2 separate regions of the Homo sapiens genome follow, and region 2 is linked to region 1. A link means that fine-mapping ties the variant in region 1 to the expression of a gene that starts in the linked region. Tissue or cell type: monocytes after Pam3CSK4. Region 1 holds a variant in brackets; the other region holds the start of a gene. All regions are shown on one strand. Distances are from middle to middle. Region 1 overlaps MBOAT1 (membrane bound glycerophospholipid O-acyltransferase 1). Region 2 holds the start of MBOAT1 (membrane bound glycerophospholipid O-acyltransferase 1).

Evidence for each region. PIP is the estimated chance that this variant, and not a neighbour inherited with it, causes the effect.
Region 2: MBOAT1 starts here. The variant in region 1 is fine-mapped to the expression of MBOAT1 in monocytes after Pam3CSK4 (Quach 2016, PIP 0.95).

Annotation. Positions count from the first base shown.
Region 1 is chr6:20,167,338-20,169,837 of GRCh38, reverse strand. The region is part of intron 1 of MBOAT1 (membrane bound glycerophospholipid O-acyltransferase 1); the gene reads left to right. Among named protein-coding and RNA genes, the nearest start is that of MBOAT1, 44 kb to the left of the region's middle. The variant G/C (reference allele first, on the strand shown) is at 1,347.
Region 2 is chr6:20,211,480-20,214,495 of GRCh38, reverse strand. It overlaps MBOAT1 (membrane bound glycerophospholipid O-acyltransferase 1), which reads left to right and starts at 2,027. Exons shown (of 13, transcript NM_001080480.3): 1 at 2,027-2,360. The coding sequence starts at 2,262. RefSeq lists an enhancer at 999-1,499 and a silencer at 1,682-2,221.

The DNA of each region.
Region 1 (2,500 bases):
CTGTGGGGTTAAATTTTAAAGATACAAATCCCTCCCCCTTCTTTCCTCCTATAATTATCAAGAGATGGGAGGATAGGAGAATTAATAGGCACCACAGGAAAACGTGTTTATTATTAAGTTTTTAAAAACCTATAATTGGTAACTTGTTTCCCGGTTTTGAAAACTGTTGTCTAGTTTGCTGTTGGGTGGGATAAGGTTTTTTCTTTTTCTTTACTTTTCTTTTTTTTTTTAACGGAGAATTGTAGTTACTTTGACTCTTGGTCCACATCAGAGTTTCCTTTTTAATATACACACATATTTTGGAGAAGGTGATTACATAATAGAAGCTCAAAATAGTTCAGTTCCTAGGGACCAGGCAGAATCACAGATATTCCTATTTCGTCAGTCCCACATTGCACAATGGTCACCAAACTTTGGGTCCCTGCACTCTTGGAGTTGTGACAATTGTGCTGTATCCCAGCCTGCCCCATAAGATCTCTGTTTTGGAAAAGCTAAATGGCATTGTGTTTTATTTTCAAATTAAACCAAATTAAAATTAATTTTGTTTTGAGACTTTTGAGAACTTCACAACCCACTCTGAGATAATTGGCCACACCCTGGGGTGTTGCATAAGAAAATATAGCCCTGGTTCTGCATTTTCCATTGTCCCCAGAGATCTTACTCATGGCAGCATCTTAAATAGCAAGTAGTATTATTGGTATACAGGAGAGCGTATATGGCTATGGGGTGATAACGTTTTTATCACTTTGGACTGATAAAGTTTTTACCTAAGTCCACCAGGAAAATAACTGTTCAAGACAGTTTTTGTTGTTGTTGTTTAGGAGACAACATAGGTTGTTGGGAAAAGATGTTACTTGGGAATCTGTTCCATCGTTTTCTTCTCTCTCTTTAAATGACCTTGTTTAACCTCTTTATTTTACCCATTGGGAAAACCCCGATGATATTTGTACTTACTGCCTCCTTAGTGATATGAAACAACCAAATACACTCCCCTCTCCTCTCCTGTCCTCTCCTCTTCCTTCCTCCCCTCCCCTCCCCCCTTTTCCCTTCCCTTCCCTTCCCCTCCTCTCCCCTCCCTCCCTTCCTTCCTCCCTCCCTCCCTTCCTTTTCCTTCCCTTCTCTCTCCTCCCCTCCTCTCCTCTCTTCTTCTTTCTCTCCTTCTCTCTCTCTTTCTCTCTTTCCCTCTCCTCTCCTCTCTTCTCTTCTCTTCTCTTCTCTTCTCTTCTCTTCTCTTCTCTCTTTCTCTCCCTCTCTCTCTTTCTCTCTCTCTCTTTCTCTTTCTCTGTTTCCCTCTCCTCTCCTCTCCTCTTCTCTCCTCTCCTCTCCTCTCCTCTCTCTCTCTCTCT[G/C]TCTCTGTCTCTGTCTCTGTCTCTGTCTTTCTTGAGTCTGACTCTGTGGCCCAGGCTGGAGGGCAGTGGGGTGATCTCAGCTCACTGCAACCTCCATCTCCCAGGCTCAAGCCATTCTCCTGCCTCAGCCTCCTGAGTAGCTGGGACTACAGGCACGTGCCATTATGCCTGGCTATTTCAGAGTTACTTTTTAATAAGAAACATGACACTATAGTATCAGGGTTTAGTTGATTCATGCTGCTTGGGTTTATATTTTTTGATTAATTTTTACTATTTCAAATGTGTATGTCTAAGAATTTTAAAATAAATAATGAAGAGATTAAAAAATAAGTAATGAATGTGGCCTCTTTAAAGCACAATTAACAGCCCAAATCTCATTTGGGAAAGAAGATGGGCTGATTGAGTTTTTAGATTTAGGACACACCCGTTCTTTGACTATGTTGGAACTTATTATGCATCTGGTAGGCTAGGTAGGGTTTCTGGGGAGGTCTTTTCATCTTATGTGCTTCCTACTGGAGGATGTGCAGGGAAATTCATCAACTCTAATTAGTGACTTTGAGCTTTTCTCCTTGCCACTGTGTTGGGTAAAGAGTTTGATGGAACAAAAGAGATACTAATAATATCTAGCATGCATCGTACAGTTCGTGTGGTGACAGGCACTGTGCTAATCACTTGACATGTATTAACTCACTTAATTCTGTGAGAGTAGTTGCATGGTTCCTATTTTATAGAAGAAGAATTGGAGACAGGCCAAATAATTTGGCTAAGGTTGTACAACTAGGGGATTAGGGTGGGACTTTATCTCAAGCTGTCTAACTTCATAGCTTGTTCTTTTAACTTTATACCAATTCTCAATTACCACTGATTAAAATCTGTGCATCCAATTCATCTGGGTAACTCCACCCTTTTTATAACAAACACTTAGAAACGTTAGTTCAGTGGGTAATCAACTCATTGGCCAAAGCCAGTAATAAATGAAAAGGCATTCAACCAGCAGCAAGGAAAATGCAAATTAAAATTAATGCACTACCAGTTCTCCACAATCTCACTGAAAAGATTTAACAGATTAACAGCCCCCTATGCTGGCAAGGGTGAGGAGAGCATACCCTTATATGTTACTGGGGGAAGTAAAACATTGCTTTAACTTTTGGAGA
Region 2 (3,016 bases), 44 kb before region 1:
CTGCCTCAGCTTCCCAAGTAGCTGGGATTACAGGTGCCTGCCACCACACCTGGCTAATTTTTGTTTTTTGGTAGAGATGGGGTTTCACCATGTTGGCCAGGCTGGTCTCGAACTCCTGACCTCAGGTGATCTGCCCGCCTCGGCCTCCCAAAATGCTGGGATTACAGGCATAAGCCACCGCACCCGGCCATTTTTAAAAGAAAAATTTAGACTAGGTTATGAACTGTGTTTTGTTAGGGAGAAAAAAACCTGTGTAAGGCTAATACATGTATATATTTTACATATACATATATACATATGTATATATCAAACCTGTGTTATATATATATATAAAAACTGTGTAATATATGTATATATAAACCTGTGTAAGGCTAATATATGTACATATAAAACTTTACATATATAAATATATTTATATATGATTATATAAATTAATATATTTATAATAAATATATATACACACGCACACACACACACATATATATATATGGCCTATGTGAGGACTATTCTTTGAAGTCTAAAAGGCATAGCTTTGTGAAAATTATAAAGGGTCTGAGGCACTTGCTCCAGAAATACTTCCCAAACTGACCTACTTCTGTTTTCCAGCAACTCATATCTGAGTGTTGATTTTTTTTTCCTTTTAAACAAAGCTCCGTCTGCTCTCATATACCTCACTTCAGCTGTCATCTAGCTCCAGATAAGATGAATGTTGCTCCAATGCTGGTCATTTTCCAGGACTCTATGATATTAAATGAACCTATCTAGCCTAGTGATCCTCAAGTATATGCCTGTGTGCGTGTGTGCATGTGTCTGTCTGTCTGTAGTGTGGGTTTGCTTGTGAGTGGTAGAGATTATCATCTGGTGGTGACATCTCCATTCGGTTAGCTTGTGGGAGTGGTGGTACAGACTTTTTTTTTTCCTCCTCCACAGGGGACATAGGTTGAGAAACTCTGGCCTGGCAATTTAATGCTCAGTGCAGTTTGATGGTGATAAAACTCCTGAAGAAGGCAAGAGTGAGGCCTGAGTCTTGGAGAGTAAGTTGTTGCCAGTGCCTGACAGGCCTTCGGTTTAATTTGAAGCTGGAGGCCACATTGATAAAGTCGGCCCCGAAAGTCATTGCCTGTCTGATCGAATGCCGGTTTACCCAGCGGAGGCTGGGGGCCACGTGAGCTCACTTTCTTTGGTTTTCTACCCAGCAGCCCAGAATATTACCTTCCTGAAACCCTTTTTCATCAGCTAGCGATTCCTGAAAAGGATCTTCAAGATTTTTATGTTTCTCAGAACCTAGCAATAACTTGGAAAAGTTTTCCAAGTAACATTGATGTGTGGGTGTTCGGGGGCAGACAAGTTAAGGAGCAAGGCACCCTTTTTGAGGACCCGTGGCATGCAAATGACTTATCAGAATGCACATAGTATGACAGTAAACACCGTTTCTTACAGAGGTGAAATAACTCTCACTCCACAGAGACGGAAGTGACCCGAAGCTAGCAGTCCCCTGTATTTGCTTGTGTGACACCGAACATGTCAGATCAGGGTGTAGGAAACTATGCCTAGCGCAGAGGAGGGTAAAGGAAGTAGGGAGTCTGGTGGCTGCGGCGCTCCAGCTTCCAGCCACCGGCAGAGGAACCCTCTACGGCTTGAAAGGGAAACGCAGCCACTCAGCCGCTTCGACTGCGGCGGCGAAACCAAAACAGGGTGGGGCGGGGTGGGTGGTGCTCTCTAGTGGAAGGCGCCCGCTGGGTGAGGTCGTTTTGTCTGGCGGGGGGCTAGGACGGTCAGCCCGGGAGGAGGAAAGGCGCGTCCCGCCTCCAGCTGCAGGGCCAGGCGGCGGCGCCCGCTGGCGTCGCTTTCCCTCTCCCGGTCGGCCTCGGTGCAGGCCAGGCTGGGCGGGCCGGGCGGCGCTTGGGGGCCGGGCTCGGAGTCCCCACTTTTCCTCCCTCCTTCCCTCCTCTCGGGGCCGTCCCGAGCGGCCGGGCCAATGGGCGCGGAGAGGAAGGGAGCGGGAAGCGGGGCGCCTTGGGCCCGGCCCTCCTACGGCGCCCGTGGCTGCAGCGCCAGCGCCAAAGCCAAGTTTGCGCCTCGAGAGTTTGCGCCTCGAGAGTTTGCGCCGGTTCGCATTCCCCGGCCTCCCGTTCGCTCCCCCGCGAACCAGGCGGCCGTGCGCCTCTCGGGGCAACCACCCAAGAGCACCCGGGCGGGAGGACGCCGAGCAGGGGGTGTTGCGGGCTGGGACAGGGGCAGCCACCTCCCGAAGATGCAGGATGGCAGCAGAGCCGCAGCCGTCCAGCCTTTCCTACCGCACCACGGGCTCCACCTACCTGCACCCGCTCAGCGAGCTCCTGGGCATCCCGCTGGACCAGGTAACTGCAGGCCGGGAGCGCAGCGACCCCAGCTCCCCAGCGATCGCGTGCACGGGGCGGGCGAAAGTGTTAGCCACCGTCCCTCCGCCTCCATGGCGTATTTTACAGCCACACACTAGACAGTTGGTTTTTGTGTGTGTGTGTGTGTGTGTGTGTGTGTGTGTGTTTTCCCTTCTTGAGTTGGTGTTAGTGTTTTTCTCCTTGTAAGTGTGAAAAAATATTGGTACAGCCTGCGCGGCAAGTTCTACTGAACTTTTTTTTCTTTAAGTTTGGGATTGCCTCGTTTCCTGTAATCAAGTTCTGAAGTAGTCTGATACATGAAACCAGTGTTTCTTTCATCAGTGTCCTCAAGTCGTTATTGTTTTTAATTTAGATGACCCTACTTAAAAAACAAGCGCGATGAATCTGTAGACGGTAGTCTATAGATTTTGAATGCAGGACCTGGGTTTTAGACTTCTGAGGCGAGGCTTGTTCAGGGGTGACAGTTATTTTGTACCGTGTGTGATGCGGGACACACAAGGACACTTTGGTTTTCCCAGGGTTCGGTTGGCTCATATGCCTGGGGCTGGAGCTTCTGAGTAGGACAGGTTAGGGGGAGGAGAGGGGCCCCAGTGAAGTTATTTGAACTGTCCAGGAATTATCTACAACCATTAAAA